Regions from separate parts of the Homo sapiens genome. Here region 1 is linked to region 2. Evidence: fine-mapped expression QTL. A gene starts in region 2. The other region holds a variant in brackets. All regions are shown on one strand. Distances are from middle to middle.

Region 1 (5,245 bases), 23 kb before region 2:
TGGGGAAGAATGTCAGATCACATAAGGCCCTGCAGGCTTCAGTAATGACTTCGTCATTTCCTCTGAATTACATGGGAAGCTACTTCAGGGTTTTGAGCAGATAAGGAAAAGACGTATCATATTTTTAAAGAATCACTCTGACTGCTATATTGTCAGTAAAACAAGGGTGGAAAAGACAGACTTCTGTGATAACCCCAAAAGAGACAATGGTGTCTTAGACAGGATTATAGCTAGAAAAAAAAAAGGTAGTGAGAAGTGGTCAGATTCTAGATAAATTTTGAAAATCAAGCACAAGGGAATTTTCTGCCATATTTGACTCAAAATGTGAAAAAGTAAAGATTCAAGGATGACTCTAAGGTTTTCAGCCTGAGAAACTCTATCCTTCTTGTTGCTATCCACAAGAAAAAAAACCTACTGTATGACAGATTAAAGGTCAGTTGCTTTAGAAATGTTAAATTTGAGATGTCTTTGATTTTTTGGTAGAGTTCTGTAACGGTTGGACATAGGATTGTGAAGTTCCAGAGAGGTCTGCACAAAGATTCGAAACTGGGAATTGGGCATATAGGTGATATTTAGAAGGAAGCAATGGTATAAAATCACCAAAGGATTAACTGAAACAGAACAGGTTCAAGGATTAACCCGTGGGACATACAAATATTTTAAAAGGTCAGAAGAAAGAGAACGAACCAACAAAGGAAACTCAAAAGGCACAACCAAGAACATAAGAAGAAAAAACAAGAACATATGTCTCAATCTCCAAAATCTGGAGTGTGAAGGAAGGTTTATGATATTAATGTGACAAATCATCAGTTCATTTAGAGACAAAAAGTACAAGTCACACTAGTTATAAGTCCAAGAGATCACTTGCTTTCTTAGTATTTCCAACTGGAAACAAATTCTTACGCTACTAGGTCTCTAGAGATTATCTAGATAATCTCTTGAGCAAACTTAACAGAAACCACTTAGAAAACATCCCCTTTAATTAAGAATACTTTCTTTTAAAAAGGGGGAAAAGGGGCAGGAGACAGGACAGAACTGTATCTTATCAAACAAGATTTTGTAAAAAGGATTTTGAATCAAACAAATCTAAAAATTAGTCTCAGTCTTTCTATCTTGTCTGGAAAAGCACTGAAATATATTATTAGAGATGTTTTCAAAACAATAGTGTCAAGAAAATTGAAATTTGATGAGATACTAGTCAGTTCTTTCAATATTAACTTTCCTATATCATTGCACTAACAGAGAAAATTTCTCTTGTTCTCTTATCTGATTTGAATAAACAGCAGTAAATAACACCTATTTAGCACTAATCACATGTCTCACACTCCTAACCTTACGAAGTAGGTACTACTTTATCACCATTTCACAGGTGGAGAAATCACAAAGAAGTCAACTTCAAAGGTCTCATGTACTCTTCTCAAGTTAGATTCTAGGAGTTGTAAACCCTACTATGATTTGAATGTGTCCCTCAAAGTTCATGATCACTACCCAATATGGTAGTTTTGGGAGGTAGGGCCTAATGGGAGGTATTTGGGTAGCAAGGGTGACTGCTCATGTGTGGATTAATGTCACTATCATCTGAGTGGGTTCATTATAAAAGGATGTGTGTGCCTCCATTGCCCTTCTGCCATGGGATGACAGCAGGAAGGCCCTTACCAAATGCCAGTTCCTTCATCTTGAACTTCCCAGCCTCCAGAACTATGAGCCAATAAATTTCTGTTCCTTACAAATTACCAAGTTTTGAGTATTCTACTTTAACAGCACAAAACACACTAAGATAAACCTAAGTTCAAAATACATAAAAAAGTTTCCAGATACAAATTATCAGCACCTAATCAATAGGGAATGAAGAGAAACTTCCAAAAAACTCTCTTAGGTGCTCTAAAAGTATGGCATAGAAACTGGAACTGAAAAGCTTCCCGGTCCATCTTATTCTCCCTTAGTTCCATAACTTAATTCATCTAAATATGTGTATACTTTGACTCACTCCTATTTTTACTACAAAATTGTTTTAACAGCAAAAAAAAATTTTATTAAACACCTAATAAACTGGGATTTTTCTATGAACATCCATACAATGGAAAACAATGCAGTAAAAATCTTTTAAATGTACATATATAATATCTTCTTAACAGCTGCATTTGAAAAGACCAAATATTGTCAACAACCCCATTTTTCATCAACACTAGCATGGATAAACTACGGTATGTTAATATAGTAATAAGAATCAACAGAGTACTGTTGCCTGCATCAATATAGATGTTTCAAATATAATGTTACACACTGAAGAAGCCAAACACAAAACATTATGAACTATATGATTCAATTTACATCTACACACAAGATGATAGCCTGAAAACTAGTGTCAAGAGAAGAAAGTCTATGTGGATGATATGGTTTGGCTCTGCGTCCCCACTTAAATCTCATCTTGAATTGTAATAATCCCCATGTGTCATGGGAGGGACCCAGTGGAAAGTAATGGAATCATGGGGAC[G/A]GGTATTTCCCATGCTGTTCTCATGACAGTGATTAAGTCTCACGAGATCTGATGGTTTTACATAAAGGGGAGTTCCCCTGCACATGCTCTTGCCTGCCACCATGTTAGATGTGACTTTGCTCCTCCTCGCCTTCCACCATGATTATGAAGCCTCCCCAGCCATGTGGAACTGTGAGCCCATTAAACCTCTTTTTCTTTATAAATTACCCAGTCTTGGGTATGTCTTTATCAGCAGTGGGAGAACAGGCTAATAACATGAGGAATTGATAGGCCAGTTACAGAAGAACTGAACAAAAATAGCCTCAAATAATTCCTGCTTAGGGTTTGGGATAGTTTTAATTCATTTACCCCCGCCTTTCATTAATTTCTTTTACATGAATTTCCTTTTACTTAATGTTTTTTCTCACTTCTTACTTTTGCATGCATGCAGGGGTTGTAGAAATAGGGAGAGGCCAAATATAAAGATAAAAATAAATTTGAAATAAAAACAAATTAGATAAAAGGCTAAAACACAGACAACATAAGGGATAAAAGGACTGCAAAGCAGGCTTAAATATGAAATTAAACAGAACTCAGAAGTCACTGCTAAGCCTGCATAGCAGGTCTAAATACAAAATTAAACAAAACTCAGAACTCAAAACTCACACGAGGGCAGTTTTATAAAAGAAAAGAGTAGGCTGAGTGTGGTGGCTTATGCCTGTAATCCCAACCCTTTGAGAGGCCAAGGTGGGAGTACTGCTTGAGCCCAAGGAGTTCAAGTTTACAATGAGCTATGATCACGCCACCGCACTCCTGCCCAAAATACAGTGAGATGGAAGGAAGGAAGGAAGGAAGGAAGGAAGGAAGGAAGGAAGGGAGGGAGGGAGGGAGGGAGGGAGGGAGGGAGGGAGGGAGGGAGGGAAGGAAGGAAAAGATGAAGAACTAAATAAAACATTCAAAAGAAATAAAAGGTACAAATCCTTAAAGTTTCTGGGGCGGGCATAACCTTCCCAGATGAGGGAGTCACCTGATCAGAGTCCTTAGGTGTGCAGGGAATAGGATGAAAATGAACAACTTTACCCTCTCATACTTCAACAAGCTCCAGAAAACTGAATCTGCTTTGTAAGTAGCTTCAGTTAATGAGGATTATTAATAACTAATCAACAGCTGGGGAGTGCTCACAAGGAGAAGCAGCAGGCAGCCTGATTTCTGCCAGCTTCTCAGAACAAAACACCCCAAATTCCATTAATATAACAGAAGATCCTTAAAAATGTGGTTTCCAGACCCTAGGATTTGCAGAGATCCTCTCAGGGTATTCACAACATCAAAACTGTTTGCATAATGATACTAAGATATTATGTGCCTTTCCACTATGTTTACAGTTAAACTAATGGTGCAAAAACAACAGTGGATAAAACTGCTGCCCCTTTACAGGAATCAAGATAGTAGACTCAAATTACACTAGAAGTCATTGTATTCTTCAGGGAGGAGGGAGATTTGAGCCTTTTATTCACAAAAGTCCCTTTTGAAGCAGTAAAAATTCTAGTGTCCACATTTGCATATATATCCTTTTAATATTCTGTGTGACAGGAAATACACATAAACCATGCTGTACTTGTGTCTCACAACATCTCAATTTTGTCTGCGCTCTTTGAGTTGTGAGCTACAGTAGCCACTTTTTTTTCAAAGAACATCATTTTTACTTGAAAGAACAACTGACAGATAAGCAATGGTTATCCAGACTTGATTATTAGACAGGCTTTCTCAAAAATGAACAGTGAGACTATCACTCCAAAGGAAATAAGTGACAGTATTTGTCACCAATGATAAAACTGAAGCTTTCAAGAGAAAATTAGAATGTTGGAAAACTTGAATCTATCTTTGAGTTTTACAGCATCTCAATATATACTTTTCTGATAAGAATAATGGCAATATTAACAAATGTGGTTTTTTCAATGTATAATGATATGTGTCAACATTCAGAAGACCTATATTATTCACTGAACAAATATTTTCCAAATGAATAAGGCATAATGTCAACTGTCTTATTTGGCATTTGACAAATGGACAAAAGATCCATTCAAAGTGCAAATGGGCCAATAGATTTCAATGTCATGGAGTATGAAAAAGCAGTGAGACTATAAATTTGAATCAGTAGTTTAAAAGTAGTTAACACTCCTAAACAATTTCATTGAGGAAGATGACTAAAACTTCTTTAGGAGTTTTAAGAGTTTAAACCTTTTTGATCAGTTTCTCCTCTATGGAAAACTAGCATCTAAACTAGCACCTAAACTGGTACCTAAGAAAACTTGACACATACAGAAAAAACCCTGCATTAGTAACTCTATGAAGGAAAATATGTATACAGTTTACTCAAAGTTATCATGAATTAGGCATCTAAACATTAATCTTAATATTCTAGAAAAGAGATTATCACATGATTTGTTAACAGAAAGCTCTTCTTTTGAAAACACACATGGAACCCGAACATAAAAGACAATTAAAGCATAAGTAGGTCCCATGGAGTCAATGCTTAGCCGCCTTATCCCTCAAACCTTTATCTCATTGCACATGCACGAGACATCTTTAGAAAAGCCACTGACTTAGGCCACTGGTTTCTAAACTTGGCTGTGCTAAAATCAGAATCAGTACCATTAGCTTTTTAGTAATAGATTCACAGGCTGCCTAACACAACAAAGTAAATTAGAATCTCTCGGGATACAATCTACCATTCTGTATTATTTAAAATGTCCCCAGTGGGCAGGTGCAGTG
Region 2 (5,245 bases):
TACATCCACAAGTATGAGCTTGACAACTCTTCAATACTTAGAATTTTCAGAGACATTTCTGACAAGATCAGTTGTAATTTAATGAAATGTGATATTTTGATATTGTGTAATGAAACGTATCCATATTTAAAAGATGTGCATAACTCAGTAAACCAACATTTTCTAAGTGGCCATGGCATCATGTTATAAAACCATGCATGGGTAAAAGAGCCTTTCAAAGTGCAAGATGGGCTAATGGATTTTAATGTAACAATGAATGAAATGCTCATTGATAGGGTTTCAGATTCCACCTTGCAGCTGACATGAATCTTCCACTTGTTGAGCTTTGGTGTAGTGTCAAAAAACATCCACAATTATCTGAAAAACGCTCCTCTGTTTCTGACTACCTATCATTGCAGCTGTATTTTCTCCATACACTTCGACTAAAATAACATACCCCAAAAGACTGAATGTAGAAGGCAACAAAAGAAACCAGCCTTTCTTCTAATAAACCAGGATTTAAAGAGATTTGCAGAAATTTAAACAAAAGTCCTTCTTCCTAATGCTTTTATCCACGACAACATTCAATTCTGATTTTATTTGTCCTTGCTGTAATATTGCCAACTTAAATGGCCTCTCTTCTTCATCTATCCAAACTCTACCACAATTCTCATTTTCTTCCAATATTGTTGTCTATTCTCTTAAGTCCTGCTTTATTTATAGTCACACTTTGGCTTTCGGTCCATAAAATACATGTTTCAAGAATTTCAGTTTTCTCACTTATCTTCAGGCCCTCTTTAAAGCCGTATTTTGTTTGGTTTACATCCTCTTACAATTCACACCACTTCTGTACCGTAAATGTTTATTAATTTATAACTGCCAAGATAGTCTCACGTAACTTTCATACATTACATGCTTATTTATTTTTTTCTAAACAAACTAAATCTGATGGACTGGAAAAGCCAGGGGGCTCTCCAAATACAGGACTGGGTGGCTGCAGAGACCACAGTCAACCTTTAGGGTTTCATTTCCTCCAAGAGAGGACTAACATGTTCCAGGGTAAAGGCAGTGTTTTTATCTGTGACAGTGATGGCAGTAACAAGAGGATCCTTTTCTTAAATTTTCACACCATTCTTTTCTTTTATTTTCTTTTTTTAGTCTCTACTGCAAAAATCTACTAGAACATACTACATAGGTACCAGACACCAACTGGATCTGACAATTAAAGTAAAACCAAACAAGCCTGATTTCCAGAACTGGAGGTTTTTGTTTTGCAATGCAAAAAGGTCAAAATACGTGAGAACAGAAAGTAACTACAGCCTCGGACGATGAGAAAAGAGAAGATTTGAGAAGGTAGAGAAGTTATGAAAGGAAATAAATTGAACTCCCAAATAAACCAAAGGGTTTTAATATGAACAGGGAAGTAATAGCCAGGCCACTCTGAGACATTTCTATCTACACTTTGCTCACTGAATATGCAGAAATAAGATCGTTGGAAAAGAAAGCACCTGAGGTCAGACAGGTAGTAGTATATACTCCGATACTGGTAATAAAGAGGGCTACAGCTCCGCCCTCCACAGGTATCTACACCAATCAAAAAAAGATTAGAAGAGAATGTGACACCTGGAAGTCAGAACGAGCAACTCACGTCATCAAGGCAGAATCACACAATGGGCACAGAGGTTGGAGACTCACTAGCCCCAAGGGTAGGGAAAATGAGGGAAAAAACATACAGAGAAGGTGACAAGTAAACAACGCCAGCGCCTACTTAACTTGCAAAGATCCAGCGCTGCCGCCCCACACCGTGTGACAATGTTTTACAGGGGACGAAAGGCCACCACATACTTCTCAACCCCGAGGGTCTCTTCCGCCCCCAAACCCCACCGGCCCCATTGCCCAAGTCAGCGATGACGGCAAGAGCTTCCAAAAAGGACCCTGCAACCCTAGACGTCATCGGTGAAATGACAGCAAAAGAGACCGGAAATCGACACCCCCCTGCCCCCGCCGCCCGCCCAAGCCCCCAACACTAAGGAGCCCTCCACAGTCCAAGCTAAAAGCGGGGCGGGGCGAAGAGGGTCTCCGGGGCCCGGAGAGGCCAACTGCAGGGCCTGCCCCTCCCTTCCTCCCCCAGTCCAAACATGGGGAAAACTCCAAGCGCCTCCCCTACCAGTAGTAAGAGGCCGAATATGCACCAGCCGATCACCAGCTCCGCCGAGGCCGCGCCAGAAGTCGCCATCTTCGCTTCCGGTCCAGACCAACCTGAGCGCCCGGGGTGGGGAAAGGGGAGGGGGAAAGGGGAGAGAGCGCGAGATATACTGCACCCGCGCACCCTAAAGGTTAAAGGGGCGGAGGGGGAGGAGCAAGTGGTTGCCAAGGAGACTGGACCCACTAGCGTCCCCTGGCGGCGAGCCGAGCGGGGGCGGGGCAGCAAGGACTGCTCAGGGGCGGGGCGCGTGCGGACGCAGTGACATCACCACGCTGCCCTCGCTGGCTTCCCTGCAAGCTGAGATGTGGGAGGGCTGCAGAGCAGGGTGTTGGCTCATAGCTGGGCAACCTATTGAGATATTTGACTCAGCCTAAGTTGATAGACTAGAACAGCAAGGGAACTCCACAAAGAATGGGCTAGGTGGACCTGGAGATCCAAGTCAATTTTAGAGGTTTATACTTCTTCACCAAAAGGAAGTTTGGCCCTCGTGTACAAGGTGGAATGTGTGTGATTAGCAGAACTCCTTACCAGGTTGCAAGAATGGCTGATGTCAGGCCTCTGAGCCCAAGCTAAGCCATCATATCCCCAGTGACCTTCACGTATACATCCAGCTGGCCTGAAGCAACTGAAGATCCACAGAAGTGAAAATAGCTTAGCTGATGACATTCCACCATTGTGATTTGTTTCTGCCCCACCCTAACTGATCAATGTTCTTTATAATCTCCCCCACCCTTAAGAAGTTTCTTTGTAATTCTCCCCACCCTTGAGAATGTACTTTGTGAGATCTACCCCCTACCCCCAAAACATTGCTCTTCACTCCACCTCCTATCCGAAAAACTGTAAGAACCAATGATAATCCCACCACCCTTTGCCGACTCTCTTTTCGGACTCAGCCCGCCTGCACCCATGTGAAATAAACAGCCATGTTGCTCACACAAAGCCTGTTTGGTGGTCTCTTCACACGGACGCATGAGACAGCTGACTCTGAATAAAAGTTGACTAGCTGCCCAAATCACTCTAATTTACTGGCACTGGTGCCCAGCCGGGATAACTGGTTGGCTGGACATGAACTTATCACATGATGTTATAGCCTTTCTATTCAGATGTATGCATGCCTGTGAATTTCCATGATAGCTTTGTATGTAAAGGTATATGCATCAGCAAACAAAACACACTGCCATAGGCCCACAATGAAGAAGAAGGAGGAAACTCTTGGGATGGCTTACCTGAGTCCACAGGGAGGAAACTCTTGGGATGGCTTACCTGAGTCCACAGGGGTGTGAGTGCATGTTTCACCACTGTGATGTAGTCAAGAAACAACTCTGAGAAAAAATACCATCATCTTTTTCCAATGTATTATGTGGTGATGAGTTATGCTCTACCTATAATCTACTTCCGGCTGGAAGCCTGAGGGAAAAAATAGGATGGTCCTTCCTGCCTGGACAGAATAAGAAGGGAATAGGGGAGAATACAGTTTTAACTTGAACTGGTACCATCATAAGCTGGCTTTAAGCCCTCTAGACCTGCAAATGTTTGAATTTCACTCTTTCTTCCTAATAATTCATATCCCTGGAGACCTCTGTCATAGCTTCCTTAAAGTGAAGAGAGGTATCGCTTCCAGGTTGATATCTCTATTCCAGATTGTATAGAGCACCCTTGACATAAGTAACTACTTCTTAGAAAAAGATTCTGTTTACATTTCAAAAGGAATCATGCCAAAAGGGACCAGATGTTCACCTAATCAATAGAGACTGCACCCAACCAGATAACGACATAACCAGGCACACTCTTTTATTATTATTATTATTATTATTATTATTATTATTATACTTTAAGTTCTAGGGTACATGTGCACAACGTGCAGATTTGTTACATATGCATACATGTGCCATGTTGAGGTGCTGCACCCATTAACTAGTCTTACATCAGGTATATCTCCTAATGCTATCCCTCCCCACTTTCCCCCACCCTACAACAGGGCCCAGTGTGTGATGTTCCCCTTCCTGTGTCCAAGTGTTCTCATTGTTCAATTCCCACCTATGAGTGAGAACATGTGGTGTTTGGTTTTCTGTCCTTGCAATAGTTTGCTGAGAATGATGTTTTCCAGCTTCATCCATGTCCCTACAAAGAACATGAACTCATCCTTTTTTATGGCTGCATAGTATTCCATGGTGTATATGTGCCACATTTTCTTAATCCAGTCTATCACTGATGGACATTTCAGTTGGTTCCAAGTATTTGCTATTGCAGGCACACTCTTTACTATCAGTCAACACCAGAGGACTCTGAGGCTATAAAAAGAGTAGAACTTCAACAGCTCAAGATAGCCATCTTAACAGACACTGTCTTACTGTCACTCATGATCAGCATCTAGCATCTGCCACCAAAGGTTCTGCTCAAATCAAAGACTCTTCCTTGCAAAATGTTGATATGCATCCTGATCAGCCGAGGACACTCTCCTTGTCCATGTTGCTCTCCTTGGATTGGTTAATCCTGTTTTCCTAACCTTTCTCTTGATGTTAAATGTTATTTTCTTTTAGAATGTTTAGCCTATAATATTTATATGTTATGTATACTACTATGTTTGGTTTGCAATATTGACTGACTTGTGGAGTGGCTAGAGCTTTGTGTCCTTGGTTCTGACTACCAAATGAATGGGTACTACTAAGGAAAATTACCTCCTTCGGACCTTCATACAGCTCATGGCTTTTATGATTGAAATAGCATCAACAAAAGTCTGACTGTGGAAAGACACAAACTTGCAGGGACTTGAGCCACTGACAGGTAGTCACTTATATCTCCTCCACAAGCCCCAGAGCATACTGAGGTATACTTAATTATTCCTTTTCCTGCTGAGGTCTTGTAATCTTCTTCTAGAAGCTCATTTAAGTTGGAGGAGAGGCCTAAGACAACCCCAAGCCAGTTCTTCCCCTTTCCCCAAATAGTCTAAATCCCCTCTGTAGGAATGATGATACATACCTTGCACCAACAACTTTGGGAGCACAGGCCAATCCCAATGTAGCTCCATTCTCCTAGTTCTACAATCAAAGGAATCAGCCC

The links. PIP is the estimated chance that this variant, and not a neighbour inherited with it, causes the effect. A credible set is the group of variants that fine-mapping cannot tell apart.
Region 1: its variant is the best candidate, but not a certain one, in a credible set for the expression of LMBRD1 in whole blood (TOPMed, PIP 0.88).

What each region holds. Positions count from the first base shown.
Region 1 is chr6:69,771,642-69,776,886 of GRCh38, forward strand. The region is part of intron 3 of LMBRD1 (LMBR1 domain containing 1); the gene reads right to left. Among named protein-coding and RNA genes, the nearest start is that of LMBRD1, 23 kb to the right of the region's middle. The variant G/A (reference allele first, on the strand shown) is at 2,495.
Region 2 is chr6:69,794,667-69,799,911 of GRCh38, forward strand. It overlaps LMBRD1 (LMBR1 domain containing 1), which reads right to left and starts at 2,344. Exons shown (of 16, transcript NM_018368.4): 1 at 2,147-2,344. The coding sequence starts at 2,215. RefSeq lists enhancers at 1,295-1,851, 1,676-1,725, 1,852-2,407, 2,036-2,265.